2 separate regions of the Homo sapiens genome follow, and region 2 is linked to region 1. The links come from fine-mapping of genetic effects on gene expression. Tissue or cell type: whole blood. Region 1 holds a variant in brackets; the other region holds the start of a gene. All regions are shown on one strand. Distances are from middle to middle.

Region 1 (8,098 bases):
CCTGGTGCCCACCCCTAGGAGGTAGGATCCAGACCAGTGGGCAGAGGAGGGGGAGGCCATGCTCCTTTGGGGCCATTTGTGTGCCTGGCGGTGGCCCCCATTGTGTCCCCAAGTGGGGTTTATGGTGTTGCCGAGGGCTGTGGGGGGCACGCCCAGTATCTGGAGCTTCTGGGTTGATTTGAGGGTTGTTCTGTGTGTCCAGGCCATGTGGGTTGGGCCACGGCCTGTGGCTAGGGTCTTTATGGAGCAGGATTGAGCCACATGTGGACAGGGTCCCTGTGGAGTAGGATTGAGGCCCCCTAATCTCCCAGCTCATTCTGCACAACTTTGGTTTTGCTCTGATTTAAAAATGAACAGATTAAACTGAAGTAAATATTTCAAGCTGTTTTTAACAAAAAAAAGGTGTTATTCATCATGCACAGTGCCCTCACTCAGATGACAGACAGCAATGAGCTTGGCTCTGCGGGGGCAGGCAGCTGGTGGCTGAGGGTGAGGCCAGCATGACATGGCTCTGATTTACCCAAAATGTTTAATACTTGCCATTTTTTTCTTAGTCTCATTTAATGTCTTTTTTTTTTTTTTTTTTTTTTGGAGACAGAGTCTCACTCTGTTGCCCAGGCTGGAGTGCAGTGGCGCAATCTCGGCTCACTGCAACCTCTACCTCCCGGGTTCAAGCAATTCTTCTGCCTCAGCCTCCCGTGTAGCTGGGATTACAGGCTCCCATCACCATGCCCAGCTAATTTTTGTATTTTTAGTAGAGACGGGGTTTCACCATGTTGGCCAGGCTGGTCTCGAACTCCTGACCTCCGGTGAGCCACCTGCCTTGGCCTCCCAAAGTGCTGGGATTACAGACGTGAGCCACCGTGCGGGGCTGTTTAATGTCTTTTTATGGAGATGCATTTTGTAGGGTGATGAGAGATGAGAGCAGAAAACAAAATCAAGCACCAGGGCCCCAGGTATGCGTCTTCCACATTTGGTTTATTTGATGAAGGAGTTCATGGCTAACAGGGCCCTATAGCCCAAGTGTGACCCAGATCTTTAGAACTGCGGGCCCTCCCTCAACTCCATCTCACCCAGTAGCATGAACCCTAAATCTACTATGGAGGCCTTAGGGAGAGAGGGTGTAGGAGGGTGGCTGCACTCTCATACCTTCCTACATCTGCTGGAGCCCAGGGCCCCCATCACAGGCAGCACCTGCTCCTGTAGGCTACAGACAGGGTCACGCAGGCGCCTGGAAACCGCTGCCAACTGCCAGGATTGGGTCTGCACCTGCCCCGGCCTCCCTGGCCCTGGGTGATGGGGGGAAGCCAAGAGGGGAGAGTCCCAGGGAACGTGACCCCCAAGTGTGTGGCTGCCCCGCCCCTCGCGGGTGTTCAAAGGCCAGGAGCCCTGGGATATTGGGAGGATGTTTCAGTATCCCCAAACCTGAAGGCACCCAGACTTCCAGAAAAGGCTGGCAATGGAGAGACAGGCAGCTTCTTTCTAAGCTGCATCATACCAGGAGGTCGCCAGGGGCACAGAGCTGCCCAGGGGCAGTGTTTCCACAGGTTTGGGCTATGGAAATGGGGACTTCTGGCCATCCTTCCTCTCTGGCCTTCTTCCAGCATCTCCCTCCAGGAGACACCAGTCCCCTTTCCCCATGGGACCACTCAGAGTCATGTCCAAGACCTTCCCCAATGGTGGTCTTTGCTGACATCTTAGGGCAGCCCCCACCCTTGCCACTGTGGATGAAGAAATCTCCTGGGGTGGTGGGGGCTCTGCTTCCTGGGGTCTCACGTGGCCGCCTCCACCCCCTCACTTGGTCCCCAGCTGCCTGGAAACCCACCCTAGATGGACTCAAGTTATCTGCAGATGTGTTTGACAGAACAGCAAGGATGTACCTGCAGTTTTGAAGACCCTGGGCTGGGCGGGATCACCACCTCTGCCTTTTTAGGGAAGGGACCCACAATTCCCAGCACTCATTTGCTCTTTTGCTGCTCAGGGACTGTCACTGCACAGGCCCTGGGGCCTATGGAGGAGTCACAGACTCTGGACTCAGGATGGGGCCCCAGGCCCCAACCAGGCTCTGGCCCAGCCCAGGGAAGATAATAATGCCCACCTTATGGAAATCCCACCCCAGGAGGGTTCAGGACAGACCCCAGGAGTGTTCAGGACAGAGCCCAGGAGTGTTCAGGACAGAGCCCAGGAGGGTTCAGGACAGACCCCAGGAGGGTTCAGGACAGACCCCAGAAGGGTTCAGGACAGAGCCCAGGAGGGTTCAGGACAGACCCCAGGAGGGTTCAGGACAGAGCTGGCCACAGCCGGGTACAGCGCCCAGGCCCTCTCTCCTTCCTTCCTCTCCTGCAACCATTCTTCCTACTTGAGAGTAAGATACAGAGACCTTGCTTTTTGCACTCTCTGGAGAATGTGTGACTGGTGATGTTCTTTCCTCTTATTTGCTTGCCTGTTTTCTAAATGTTTGATAATGAATTTGTTTACTTTGAAATAAGCAAACAATACCAAAAGTTATTTTTAAAAGGACAGCCTCTAAGTCCATGATTACAATTTGGATGATGAGCCAGTGTGGTCGAGGGTGTTCTGATCCTCACACAGCACTGGTGACAGACCTGACCAGGGCACGTGGAGGTGCTTCCACATGGCAGTGGCTTCTTGGTCCTTCAGAAGGATGGAGGCCACCAATGGGCCACGGAGCTGAGTAGGTGGACAAAGCAAATGAGCAGGAAGGGTGGGCTGGGAGTGAGGGGAGGGTGACTGTGGTCCCCTGGATAGTCTGTTGTAAAGAAGCCACCTCGGCTGGGCACGGTGGCTCATGCCTGTCATCCCAGCACTTTGGGAGGCCAAGGCGGGTGGATCACGAGGTCAAGAGATTGAGACCATCCTGGCCAACATGGTGAAACCCCATCTCTACTAAAAATACAAAAATCAGCTGGGCATGGTGACAGGCACCTGTAATCTCAGCTACTTGGGAGACTGAGGCAGGAGAATCACTTGAACCCGGGAGGTGGAGGTTGGCGTGAGCTGAGATCGCGCCATTGCACTCCAGCCTGGGCAACAAAAGTGAAAGTCCATCTCAAAAACAAACAAAAGAAACAGGCAGCTTCTCAGAACACATCTGTCCTCCATGTCCACGGGCGCATCCCACCCCTGGCCACCACCGTGTGGCTTTTCTCCGTGGAAGCAGAGGCCATGCATCACTCCCACAGGCAGCCTCTCTCTGACGAGCCTCAGTAGTAAATTCATGCAAGAAACAAAGAAAACTGCTCCTGTCCTTCTTCAGTGCTGTGCGGAGGAGCGAGAGGGAAAAGCCAACCATAACGCCATTGCATGTGCTGCTGAAATGCTTTGTGCAAACGTTGAGACTGGAGGTGAGGGCGGAACTTTGTAATATAAGAGCAGTAAGATAAATGTTGATTTTAAAATCCAAGTACTTGGACTTTGCTAGAATATTCCATAATCTTTTCCTGGTCTTGATTATTAAACAGTTTTCAAGAAAGTTCTATTTGGTGAGTCACCTGATGATCTAAACACACTTTTCTTTCTTGTTTGATTCCAGCTGGGTCACCTGCCAACAGAACCAAGCCCACTTGGGTTTTGGAGGCTTTGGGGGCTGGCTGGTTTCCCTGGGCATGATTGGTGACCTCAGGTCAGATTCCTGGACTTGCTGGGGATCCTGTGCCCAGGAAGGCACCAGCCCAGGAGGCTCTGAGCCTCAGCCAGGGATGCAGCAGGTTGGTAGCACCTTGGCAGCCATCCCGAGGACACAGGTAAGAAGCCAACAGAGAAGCAAGAATGTGTCTTATTAAAGCTGCTCCACTCCACAAGCATCTCTGGAATGTTCTCTGGGCCCCGGATCTGCGCGAGGCATTCTGGGTGAGACAGAGACGAAGCCGCTTGAGCTCGGAAGCCGGTGCTCAAAGAGCGTGACGTGGCCTCACCCCATTCCTCTGCAGGGCTCAGCTGGCACCTGCACCCCCGAGGTAGCTGGGGGCCCCTGAGCTTGGCCAGGCCCATCTGGCAGCCTTGTCCCTGCTTGTCCACCCCCTCTGGGTTGCGTTCAGCTTCCTGAGCTCCCCCTCTTCACCCGTTCCTAACACAAGAGCTTGTGCACCCCAGGATGGTGGGGATGGGGTTCTGGCTCGTGGGCAATCTGGGTGTCAGGCTTACGGCCCCAGTGGCTCCGGGTCATGGCCTTGGCCCCACAATGGCTGTGCTGCCCCATCAGTGGTCTCTGCAGCTGGGGAAATGCCTGGTCCTTCTGGAGATACAGGAGTGTTGGATTCCCCGATTATGGCCACGTCCTGTTCCTCTGGTACCATCCACCCACCAAGTCTTGCCACGGTTTCCCTCTGGGCCTCAAATCCAGCTGTCCATCCCAACATCTGTCTCAAGTGGCCTCTCCTGTACCCAGCTGCCCAGGAAGCGATCCAAAGGCTCCGTCCCAGGCTGCTGAGGTGACTGAGGACCTTGAGAGGGTCCTACACTCTCAGACCAGGGTGAGGCCGAGGCCCGAGAGGCAAGTCCCTGCCCAGGCCCTGGCTGGCCAGGACGCGCTGGCCACAGCTTCCCAGAGTGGACGCTGCCCTGCACCCGCCAACACTTCCCCGTCAGCTTCCCGGTCCCACACCGCTCCTGCTGGCAACGAGGTCGCAGCATATTAAATTCTCGACGCAACTACTGTGTGAAAAAGCCATGCAAACCAGCGAGGAGCCTGCTTACCACAGGGGCCCTCAGAGGGCTCTGCTGCTCCTCGGTCAAAACCTCCTTTAGGCAGTGACTCTGGCAGCTGCCGGCTGGGCTGTGTCCTGAGAACTG[A/G]GGCTGGGAGGGGCCAGGTGGGAGGGACCTCATCCTCCAGGCGCCCACTGGCCCAGCCCTGAGTGTTCACGACAGGTGCAGGGCTCCCTCCCCGGCCCCCTTCTGGCCAGGGCAGCCACAGCTCAGCCCCGAGGCCTTGAGTGGCCTTTTCAGAGAAAACCAGGACCTGGGGGCTCCTCCCGGGAGCCTCTGACCCCCAGACCCATAAACAGGCTTCTCTGTGGGGTCCCTCAACCACTACTTTCCTCTCACCTGAGGGGACCAGCCAGACAGCTCAGGCACCCGAGTCTTTAGGGAATGAGCTCACTGCCCTCTCCACCCACAGCAGGACACCTGGCAGCCAAAGCCCCACACCTGCCCCTATCCCAGGACTGGGACGAGGAAGCCCCAGGGTGAGGGGTGGCCCTGATCTGAGCCCTAACCTGGTGGGGGTGGCAGGCAGCCCCAGGTGTGTGGATGACCTGAGCCAGGCACAGACAGCTGCCAGGTGGGGAGGAGCAGAGGTCATGGGGATGTAGGGAAAGGGTTTGGGGGTTCCTCCCACAGGGCCACTGTGTGAGACAATTTGTCACTTTCTTACAAAACTAAACACACTCTGACCACAGCATCCAGCAATCTCACTCCTTAGAGTTTACCAAAATGAGTTGAGAACTTATGTCTACAGACACCTGCACATGAATATTTGTAGTAGCTTTATTCATAATTGCCCAAACCTGGGAGCAACCAAGATGTCTTTCCATAGGTGAATGGATAAATAAACCATGGTACATCCAGACAATGGAATACCATTCAGTGTTAAAAAATAAGTGAGCTGGCCATGCAAGGTGGCTCACGTCTGTAATCCCAGCACTGTGGGAGGCAGAGGCAGGCGGATCACTTGAGCCCAAGTGTTTGATACCAGTGTGGGCAACATGGTGAGGCCCTGTCTCACAAAAAATACAAAACTTATCGGGGTGTGCACCAGCACCTGTAGTCCCAGCTATTTGGGAGGCTGAGGTGAGAAAATCACAGGAGCCCAGGAGGTTGAGGCTGTAGTAGCTGTGATTTCACCAGTGCATTCCAGCCTGGGTGACAGAGCAAGACTCTGTCTCAAAAAAAAAAAAAAAAAAAAAAAGAAGTGAACTATCAAACCACAAAAGACATGGAAGAACCAAAGTGCGTATTACTAAAAAAGAAGTTGAAAAGGCTACATAATGTATGAGTCCAGCTCTGTGACATTTTGGAAAAGGCAAAATTAAGGAGACAGTCAAAAGATTCCTGGTTGCCAGGGGCTGGGAGAGGGAGTGATGAAAATGCAGAACACAGATGAATCGGGGCGGAGAAACCCGTCTGTACAATATTAGAGTGGTGGGTCTGCATGATTATACATGTGTCCAAACCTGCAGAATGCACAGCACCGGAGGAAAGCATAATGGAAACTGCAGAGGGCGATGATGATAATAACAACGTGTAACAAATGGCTGGGACGGGAGGACTGGGGAAGGCTGTGCACCTGCAGGAGCAGGGGAGCGGTGGGAGAGCTCCATGCTTTTGGCTCAATTTTGCTATGAACCTAAAACTGCTGTAAAAAATAGAGTCTACTGAAAAAACAAGTGTTAATTTATAAGCGTCTTGTTTAAAGAGCGAAGAGATGAACCACAAAGGGGAAAATGTGTTTAAACAATAACTAATTGACAATTGGCTGGTTCTTAAAATTCAGAGAACTTTAAGACAGAGACAGCAAAGCAGGGATCACGTTTTACAAACGCGGCAGGACCAGGACGTCGTGCCCACGACGGGCCAGCAACCACAGGCTGGATGCTCACCCTGTGCCAGCCTGCAGACGGAGAGCACCCACCCCAATCTCCAGCCCCCAGAGGAGCTGCCTCTCCAGGGCCTTCCTGCAGGTGCCCAGGGGCTGCACATGGCCCTCCTTGGAGGGAGCTGGTGACTCAGCACTTTCATTTCCTGGAAACTGAGGCTCATGGGAGATATGCAGATGAGCCCAGAGCACCATGGGAAATGGCCCTTTATATACCCAAATGGGCTCTGCCTCCTCCTTTCCCTGGGTGCCCACATGAACAGAGACACCAGGATGGTGAGATCTCCCGAGGAGGGGTCTCTGAGGAGGGGTCTCGGAGACACGGCCTGGTGCTGGGTGAGGGGTTGGGAGGCTGAAGCGGGGCCAGGATTCCTCAGGTTCCCTCAGTTTCCCTCAAATTTCCCTCAGTTTCCCTCAGGTTCCCTAAGGTTCTCCAAGTTCCCTCAAATTTCCCTCAGTTTCCCTCAGGTTCCCTCAGTTTCCCTCAAGTTTCCCTCAGTTTCCCTCAGGTTCCCTCAGTTTCCCTCAGGTTCCCTCAGTTTCCCTCAAGTTTCCCTCAGTTTCCCTCAGGTTCCCTCAGTTTCCCTCAAGTTTCCCTCAGGTTCCCCCAGTTTCCCTCAAGTTTCCCTCAGCTTCCCTCAGGTTCCCCCAGTTTCCCTCAGGTTCCCTCAGTTTCCCTCAAGTTTCCCTCAGTTTCCCCCAGTTTCCCTCAAATTTCCCTCAGTTTCCCTCAGGTTCCCTCAGTTTCCCCCAGCTTCCCTCAGGTTCCCTCAGTTTCCCTCAAGTTCCCCTCAGTTTCCCCCAGTTTCCCTCAGGTTCCCCCAGTTTCCCTCAAGTTCCCCTCAGGTTCCCCCAGTTTCCCTCAAGTTTCCCTCGGGTTCCCCCAGTTTCCCTCAGGTTCCCCCAGTTTCCCTCAGTTTCCCTCAAGTTTCCCTCAGGTTCCCCCAGTTTCCCTCAGGTTCCCTCAGTTTCCCTCAAGTTTCCCTCAGGTTCCCCCAGTTTCCCTCAGGTTCCCTCAGGTTCCCCCAGTTTCCCCCAGGTTCCCCCAGTTTCCCCCAGTTTCCCTCAAGTTTCCCTCAGGTTCCCCCAGTTTCCCTCAGGTTCCCTCAGTTTCCCTCAAGTTTCCCTCAGGTTCCCCCAGTTTCCCTCAGGTTCCCTCAGTTTCCCTCAGGTTCCCCCAGTTTCCCCCAGGTTCCCCCAGTTTCCCCCAGTTTCCCTCAAGTTTCCCTCAGGTTCCCCCAGTTTCCCTCAGGTTCCCTCAGGTTCCCCCAGTTTCCCCCAGTTTCCCTCAGGTTCCCCCAGTTTCCCTCAGGTTCCCTCAGTTTCCCTCAGGTTCCCCCAGTTTCCCTCAGTTTCCCCCAGTTTCCCTCAAGTTTCCCTCAGGTTCCCCCAGTTTCCCTCAGGTTCCCTCAGTTTCCCTCAGGTTCCCCCAGTTTCCCTCAGGTTCCCTCAAGTTTCCCTCAGGTTCCCCCAGTTTCCCTCAGG
Region 2 (8,098 bases), 24 kb before region 1:
AGAGAACTCCACCTTCGAAGGCGGCTGGGGCAAGGGTTCGTGGCCAGGCTGCCCTGCCTCTCGGGTGCCTGCACCCCTGCTAGGAAAAGTCCCTAGGTAGGGCGGCAACTCCAGCCCTGCCTCTCCCAGCTCCCAGTGCAGCCCACACGCCGGAGTGCAGATGACCTGCAGGGAACTCCCATGAGGGAACTCTGTAAAGCGACCTTCAGACGTGCTATTTATAGATGTCTATAGATTTATAGATGTGTGTTTCTCCAAACAAATAAACCACCAGAAAGTGTCACAGCAGGACACGTCACCAACCCCGGGGACCCCATGTTACCAGGGGTCCTCCTGGAGCCTGGAGTCTGGGCCTGCTGAGGACCTGGCTTGCAGACGGGCTCCGGCCTTCTCGTCCCATTGCCCCAAGCGCTCCAACCCCCTGTGAACATGCCTCTAGTCATCCCTGGGCCCTGCACAGCCACAGGCAGCCACCCGGTCATTCCCATACTCTCACCATGGTCCTGCCTCCACGTGGAAGACCCTGCCAGCCGCAGAGTGCAGGTGTGGGGACACTGTCACTGCTGGGAGGCACGTCACCAACCCCGAGGTGCTGCTGAGGCTCAGGGATGGTCCCACATTGGCGCAGGCTGCGGGTGCCGTGTCCTGAGGTCTGGGTTCCCCACTCCAGGCAGCCGCTATGCTCAGTACAAGTCCAGTCCCTTCTGTTGGAAACCCCACCCCACCCTGTCAGGGCTGAGTGCAAGGGGAGGGAACCCACACCTGAGACCTTTTGTGGCCCCTCACTAACACCCCCTTTCCTGCTGTGACCCCTCAGGGCTGCTCAGATGGGCTTGGAGACAGGCTCGGGCCCCATCTCCCATCATACGTCCAGCATTCTAGATTAGCTGGAAGTCCGACGGGGTCTCCCTGGGTTAAAATCAAGGGGTGGGTCAGGGTGGTCCCTTCTGGAGGCTCCAGGCGGAATCTGTCCCTCTCCGTCTCCAGCGTCCAGAGGCATCCGCATCCCTCGGCTCATGGCCCCTCTGCCATCTCCCCACCACTGCCCCCCAGCTGCTTCCCTCATCTCCCTGACTCCCCCTCCTCTCTCCCTCTCCTGGAGACCCTGTGATGGCATCAAGGGCCCCCCTGGGTGACCCAGGACACATGCCCCAGCTCAGCACCCGAGGCTTCATCCCATCTGCATAGTCTCTTTGCCATGTCAGGTTCTGGGATGAGGACGTGACATCTTTGGGGACTGGTAGCCGACCACAGAACCCCCACCCCCAGTGCGGTGGGAGACCCAGGCCACCTGCAGACCCCTGCATGGAGGTGAGGTTCACACAAGGAGACCCCAGGGGGCCTGGGTCCGGCTCCCTCACCCCACGCTCCACGATGCCAGCTCAGCCACCCACCTTGGAACCGTGCAGATGGACAGCAGGGAGGGTCGGGGCTGCTGGGGGCTCCCCCACTGCTCTCCGCACCACCCCGCCGACCGTGTCCGGGAGGGGATGCCCTGCTGCTCTCCCCAGGCTGCTCTGGGGAGTCCTGCCCTCACCTGGAGCCTGGAGGCCATCTGAGTCTGTTTCACAAATGCTTCCAGGGACTGCCCCTGCCATGTGTTAGGGGTGGGAATTCTGGGCACACAGCCAAAGGTCACAGATCCCCAGAGAGCCCCGACAGCGCTGCGTCCACCCCACCTGCCCACCCAGGTGCTGGCTCTGCCACCCGTCTGTGTCCTGAGTCAGCCCTGACTCGGCAGAGAGCTGCACCCTGAGCCAGACCTCAGCAGCTGGGTCCTGGAGGCCCCCAAGGGCCAGCTGCACGCACCTGGCTTCATGCCAAGCTCCTCCCGCCTGGCAGTGGCTGCATCTGCCTCCCCTCCACCCTGAGTGTCCCAAGTCTGCCCGCTGTGCATTCCATGGGGCCAGCAGCTCGGTGGAGCCTCTGCTCTCGGGGGCTACAGCTGCTCCTAGATGCCTCTGCCACCGAGGGTGGACCCTGCAGTGCTGGCTCCTAGCCTCCCTGCCGATTGCTTCCTGAAGACCTGGGGCCCTGGGCTGCAGTGGTTGGGGAGAGGGGGGTGGGAGTGAGAAGCTGGCACTGTCCGTCTTTCTGGCCTCATCCTCTCCATGGTCTCAGCCCCTGGCGGCCTGGACTGCACCGTTCCGGAGATGCTGCCTCCCCACCAAGTCCCTTTAGCCCAACTGTGGTGGCGGCCGCTGCTTCTCACACGCGGGTCCTCTCACTGCCTCTCCCCGGTCCTCCCTTCCTCCCAGCACCTTCACCAGCTCCCCACTGAGTGCCCTCCAATGTTGGCGACCCTGACCCTTGTCCAGCCAGGGGTGAAGGGCGGCAAGGGATGGGCTGGAGGGTACTAGGAGCAGGTGGCGGTGCCCTTCCTGTCGGTCCACACCCGGCAAGTGGCGGGAAAGGTGTGGAATGAGTCAGCCGTGGAGGGGAGCCCTGGGCCTGGAAGACCCCTGTCTTTGGCTTGAGAATGACTTTGAAGGGCTCAGGGGGTAGGGAGCTGGGGGGAGACCGGGAGGAGAGCGGCAGGTCTGGCTCTACCCCGAGGCTTCAGGCTGCGGACCATGCGTGGCCCCAGCTCTGTCTGGGCAGCAGGTGTCAGCGACTTTGGGTTGCTGTGGGAATTTGCTCCGTTTATCAGAAGAAAACGCACCCTGGCAACACAGGCCCCTCTCAGGTCACCAGGCACATCTGGTCACATCTGAGTCTCAGATAAACAACCAATGATGTCCTGGTGAAAGCTTGTCCCGTGGGACACTCGGGACACACTTATATTAAAACACGATTAACGATCTCAAACTCAGATGTTACTGGGTATCCTGCGTTTTTGTTGGCAGCTCTGCCACTCTGCCCGTCTGCCTGAGTCCTCTCCTGCCATCCTCCTGACCAGAGGCGTGGGCTTGAGTTGAATGCCACGCAGTGGCTAAAAATCAGAGAGAGGGCAGGCGGCAGGGCGCGGCCCCAGGGAAAGTGGCCAGGTGGGCGGTGACTGGCCGGGCAGCTCCGTGTGTGGCACAGGGAGACCTGGCACAGGGAGACCAGGTACAGGGAGACGAGGCGCACGGAGCCTCAAAACTTCTAGAGTGGGCCGGGCGCGGTGGCGCATGCCTGCAATCCCAGCACTTTGGGAGGCTGAGGCAGGTGGATCACCTGAGGTCGGGAGTTTGAGACCAGTCTGAACAACGTGGTGAAACCCCGTCTCTACTAAAAATACAAAAAAATTAGCCGGGCGTGGTGGTGCACGCCTGTAATCCCAGTTACTTGGGAGGCTGAGGCAGGAGAATCGCTTGAACCAGGGAGGTGGAGGTTGTGGTGAGCCAAGATCTGGCCACTACATTCCAGCCTGGGCAACAAGAGCGAAACTCCGTCTCAAACCAAACAAAACAAAAAACAAACTTCTAGAGCGGGAAAAGATGGAGGCGGCAATCAGATTTCTCTCAAACCACGAACACAGGGGTCGGTATCTGAGGCGCCGGCACCAGACACGGCAGGGTCTGAGTGCTCCCTGACAAGCGATGATGCGCAGGCTTGGAGCCATGCCAGTGACACGCCTAGGAAAGTTCACGCACCGCCCAGCACGCCTGCGCATGCCTGTTCCCGCTCCCTGGTGCCCCGGGCGCCTGCCTGTCCCGGCTCCCATGGGTGCTGGGTGTGTGGAAGCTCCGGCCCCCTCGGGCTGGGTTCATTGGGGTCCTCCTGTGTGGTCAGTGGACTCTGTACCCCCACAGCACCTGAGGGGTGGCTGACACTGCTTTCCCAGCTGCTGCAGGGGCTCAGGGAACACAGGTGACCCCACGTCTCTACCGAGAATGAGCACACCAACACCTCTCAGAAGACAGCTGCAGCCTGCAGAGGCCATGGACCCCACCCAGGCCCACGGTGTGGACGGCTCTGCCCTGGTCTCTGCTGAGCCAGGCCCAGAGGGGACCCCAGGTGAGCAGCAAAGCCCCCCAGGCCTGGGGCTAGACCGGGCTAACCCTTCCTGCTCAGCACCTGTTCACCTGTCCCCTCTGCTGGTGGCCTCCTGTCCTCCCGCTCTGGGCTCAGCAGCAGCCCCGTGGAGAGGCCCTGCCACCACCCCCGCCCTGCTGGAGACAGGCCTCCTACGCGGGCTCCTGCAGCCGGTCGCCCTGGGCCTCCTAGAAGCCGGGGATCCTCTGCTGACCACCGGCAGAAAACGTGCTTCTCAAGCTGCAGGTGATTCACCAGTAGTGGGCAAGGAACTGAATGTGGTGATTACTGCGGAGTCAGCAAAACCCGCGTGAGAACGGGCAGCTGAGGGCCTGCCGGGTGAGGGAAGCCTCACGGTTCCTGTTTCATGAGTTTGCTGTGAGTGCACACGAGGCTGTGGCTGTGGAGTGTGCAACAGTCCACGCGTGCCTGCGTGTGCTCATGTGCGTGTGTCCACCAGCTTGTGTGCACGCATATGAGCGAGTGCGTTTTGCTCCCAGCTTGGTCGCAGCGACGGCGCAGGGAACCCCGGGTGAGGCCGAGGACCGGGAAGGGAGGAGGGGGCTCCGACCCATCGGACTTAGGGGAGCCCCGGGTCCGAGACGCCGCCTCTGTCCCTTCAAGAGTCGAGCCTGGCGCACAGGGCAGGGACGCGGGTCCCCACACCGGCCGGCAGCTCGTTCCCGCCCATACTCGGGTACGCCCGCTGCGACCCCGCCCGCCTGGCCTGCGACGCACGCTCAGGGCCAGCGGGGGGTGACGGTCCCAGAGGCAGAGGCGCCGCAGCCCCAGAGTCCCCATCCCTGCGCGGACCGGCAACCCCAGTGCACCAAGAGGCCCTAACACCGAGCCCCCAGCACCGAGTCCCCAGCACCGGGCCCTCAGCACCGAGTCCCCAGCACCGAGTCCCCAGCACCGAGTCCCCAGCACCGAGCCCGCCCCTCTGGTTCCCCCGCCCGCCCCTCTCCGCGCCTCACCGGGTCCGCTCCTGGACGCGCTCCTCTGGGATGCAGCTTCTCCGCGCCCCGGAGCCCCAGGAAAATGAAAGACACGAGAGGGAGGGGCCAGGGAGGAGGCGGCGGACCCGCGCGGGACCCACCTCCCAGATGAGGAAGGAGCTGGGTTTACGGGAAGCCTCCAAGTTTCGGGAACCACCCGCGTTCACAACAAGCGTGACGGTGAATTTATTATTTTCACGGGAGGCACCGCACCCGCGGTTCACGCTAAAGGAAGCAGGAAAGCCGCCGGGAGCATTTTTCCAGGAGAGTTCGTGCCTGGGCGGGTCCAGCTCGCGTGCGGCGCGCGTTCCCCGCGGGGCTGTTTGGCTCCGCTCCTGGAGGCCTCGAGTCTGTGCACGGGGCGAGCTGGGCGGGCCGAGTGGGCCGCGGGGAGGGAGGGCGGGGGGCGGCCCCCAGATGCCTGGGAGTGCGCGGGCAGAGTGAGCTGGACCCCCGGAGGGTCAGAGGCCCTTTCATAAAAGCGCGCAGAGCAGAGGAGTGATGTCCCCCAGCTCCCCCGCAGAGGGTCCTGCACCTGCGGCCTGGGCCTTCAGGCGTCCTGCGGCCCCTGCGGAGGTGCTGGCCTGGCCAGCCCGGGAGGAGGGGCCCAGCCTGTTGGGGCAGGAGATTGGGGTGCGGGTAGAAGGCTCCAAGACGCATCCGGGCCGGGAACCCACAGACATCCCAGGTGGGCAGGAGGTGGCTCGAGGAGGCCTGGAGGACCCGGCGCCTGGCGGGGTGGCAGGCGGGCCACGTCCTCCACTAGAACCCGAGGGGGCACGCGGGCAGGTGCGGGCGGGGTCAAGGATGACCAGGTATCTTCGGGACACTAGGAGGAGGCCCCACAGGCTGCAGTCACGTGAGTGGGCAAGTCCCCACCGGGCAGATGATGGGGGACACTGGGGCGTGGGCAATGCCCCCAGTTTCATGGAAGAGAGGAAGAAGCAGAACCAAACTCCGGGAAACCCTCAAATGTGGGGAATGGACGGAGCAGGGCCAGACTGGACGCTGAACCTTGGAGCCTGCAGCTCAGCCATCAGACCCAGGGTCCAGAGGTGGGTGGCACAGAACAAAGTCCCCCGGGATGTTCCAAAAGAGAAACTGTCGCCAAATTGGCAGGTGAAACACAGCCTGTCATCCTCCCAGCAAGACGGCACCATGGCCGGGGCACAGAGGTCAGATTCCCCAGCCCCCGCCCTCGGGGAAACCCCAGCCACCCTGGCTGCCAGTGAGATGCTGGAGAGGGGGCTGAAATCCCACCTGCCCACGTCCTCTGCACAGAGGGGCTTGTCCCCGAGGCCACATCCCCCAGCAGCCACAGCTTCCTTCTCCTTTTTTCCTGCCTACTAGATCTCTCAACTCAGAGGGGGCTGCAGTTCCTGGGGGCAGGGGGGTCCGGCTGCTTAGGCAGGAGCACCTGCACCGTGAGGCTCTGGAGGGCAGCTGAAGGCTGGCAGGCTTTTGTCCCGTGAGGGGACACCACTGGGGGTTGGAGGAAAACGCATATCCTGATAAAGCATTTCATGTTGTGAAAGTGAAACTAGTTTGTTTATTTTGGAAGTAATACAGGCACAGAAACAAAATAGAATGAAACCAACTGTTGCCTTTTCCTCCCCACCCTGGCTTCAATTCCCAGGTTGAGTTATGGACACTGCCTTACCTATCCTTCTAGAAGTTTTCCTGGTCCATACAAACAGCACAGCCATCCACTCACGTTTATTTCTTTCTTTTTTTTGAGACGGAGTCTCTGTTGCCCAGGCTGGAGTGCAGTGCTGCAGTCTCGATCACTGCAACCTCTGCCTCCCAGGTTCAACTGATTCTCCCACCTCAGCCTTCTGAGTAGTTGGGATTGCAGGCATGTATCACCACGCCCAGCTAATTTTTGTAGTTTTAGTAGAAATAGGATTTCATCATGTTGGCCAAGCTGGTCTCGAACTCCTGACCTCAGGTGGTCCGCCTGCCTTGGCCTCCCAAAGTGCTGGGGTTACAGGTGTGAGCCACCACATCTGGGCAGTATCTTTCCATTTCTTTTTTTTGTTTTGAGACGGAGTCTCGCTCTGTCGCCCAGGCTGGAGTGCAGTGGCGCAATCTCGGCTCACTGCAAGCTCTGCCTCCTGGGTTCACACCATTCTCCTGCCTCAGCCTCCTGAGTAGCTGGGACTACAGGCGCCCGCCACCACGCCCAGCTAATTTTTCTGTATTTTTAGTAGAGACGGGGTTTCACCGTGTTAGCCAGGATGGTCTGGATCTCCTGACCTTGTGATCCGCCCATCTTGGCCTCCCAAAGTGCTGGATTACAGGCGTGAGCCACTGCACCCGGCCGTATCTTTCCATTTCTATACAATGCTGGGATCAGGCATCTTAGAGCGGATGTGTGGATTCATTCACCCTCAGCCTGTCCTTGAATCACAGCCTCTGCTGTGCCAGGTGACATGTGGAGTTTCATTTCCTTTCTGTTCGAGGAATTTGTAGATTTCAGTTATGATTTTCTGTTTAACTCTCCAAATTATTCGGCAGCATATTCTTAAAATCCCCAAGGTCCTGGAGCATTTGCTTTTCTTTTTTTTGGAGACAGAGTCTTGCTCTGTCGCCCAGGCTGGAGTGCAGTGGTGCGATTTCGGCTCACTGCAACCTCCGCCTCCCTAGTTCAAGCGATTCTCCTACCTCAGCCTCCTGAGTAGCTGGAACTACAGGCACGTGCCGCCACGCCCAGCTTTTATTTATTTATTTATTTTATTTTTGGTAGAGACGGGTTTCACTATGTTAGCCAGGCTTTTTTTTTCTTGAACTCCTGAGCTCAGGCAATCCACCCGCCTCGGCCTCCCAAAGTGCTGGGATTACAGGCGTGAGCCACTGTGCTGGCGGCATTTGCTTTTCTTTGTAACTTGATTCTCTGGGTTCCCTTGCCTTTCATCCTTGCCCACCCACGTGACTGCAGCCTGTGGGGCTTCCTCCTAATGTCCCGAAGATAACTCGTCATCCTTGACCCCGCCGCCACCTCGGGTTCTAGTGGAGGATGTGGCCCGCCTGCCACCCCCACAGGCACCGGGTCCTCCAGGCCTCCTTGACCCACTTCCAACCCACCTGGGATGTCTGCGCGTTACCAGCCCAGATGCCTCTTGGAGCCTTCCACCTGCACC

The links. PIP is the estimated chance that this variant, and not a neighbour inherited with it, causes the effect.
Region 2: SECTM1 starts here. The variant in region 1 is fine-mapped to the expression of SECTM1 in whole blood (INTERVAL, PIP above 0.99).

Annotation. Positions count from the first base shown.
Region 1 is chr17:82,352,397-82,360,494 of GRCh38, forward strand. TEX19 (testis expressed 19) reads left to right here and starts at 6,851. Exons shown (of 2, transcript NM_207459.4): 1 at 6,851-6,889. RefSeq lists enhancers at 1-425, 3,493-4,428 and a silencer at 8,037-8,098. The variant A/G (reference allele first, on the strand shown) is at 4,813.
Region 2 is chr17:82,328,763-82,336,860 of GRCh38, forward strand. SECTM1 (secreted and transmembrane 1) reads right to left here and starts at 5,004. Exons shown (of 5, transcript NM_003004.3): 1 at 4,938-5,004. RefSeq lists a silencer at 3,347-3,631 and enhancers at 3,508-4,310, 6,358-6,427.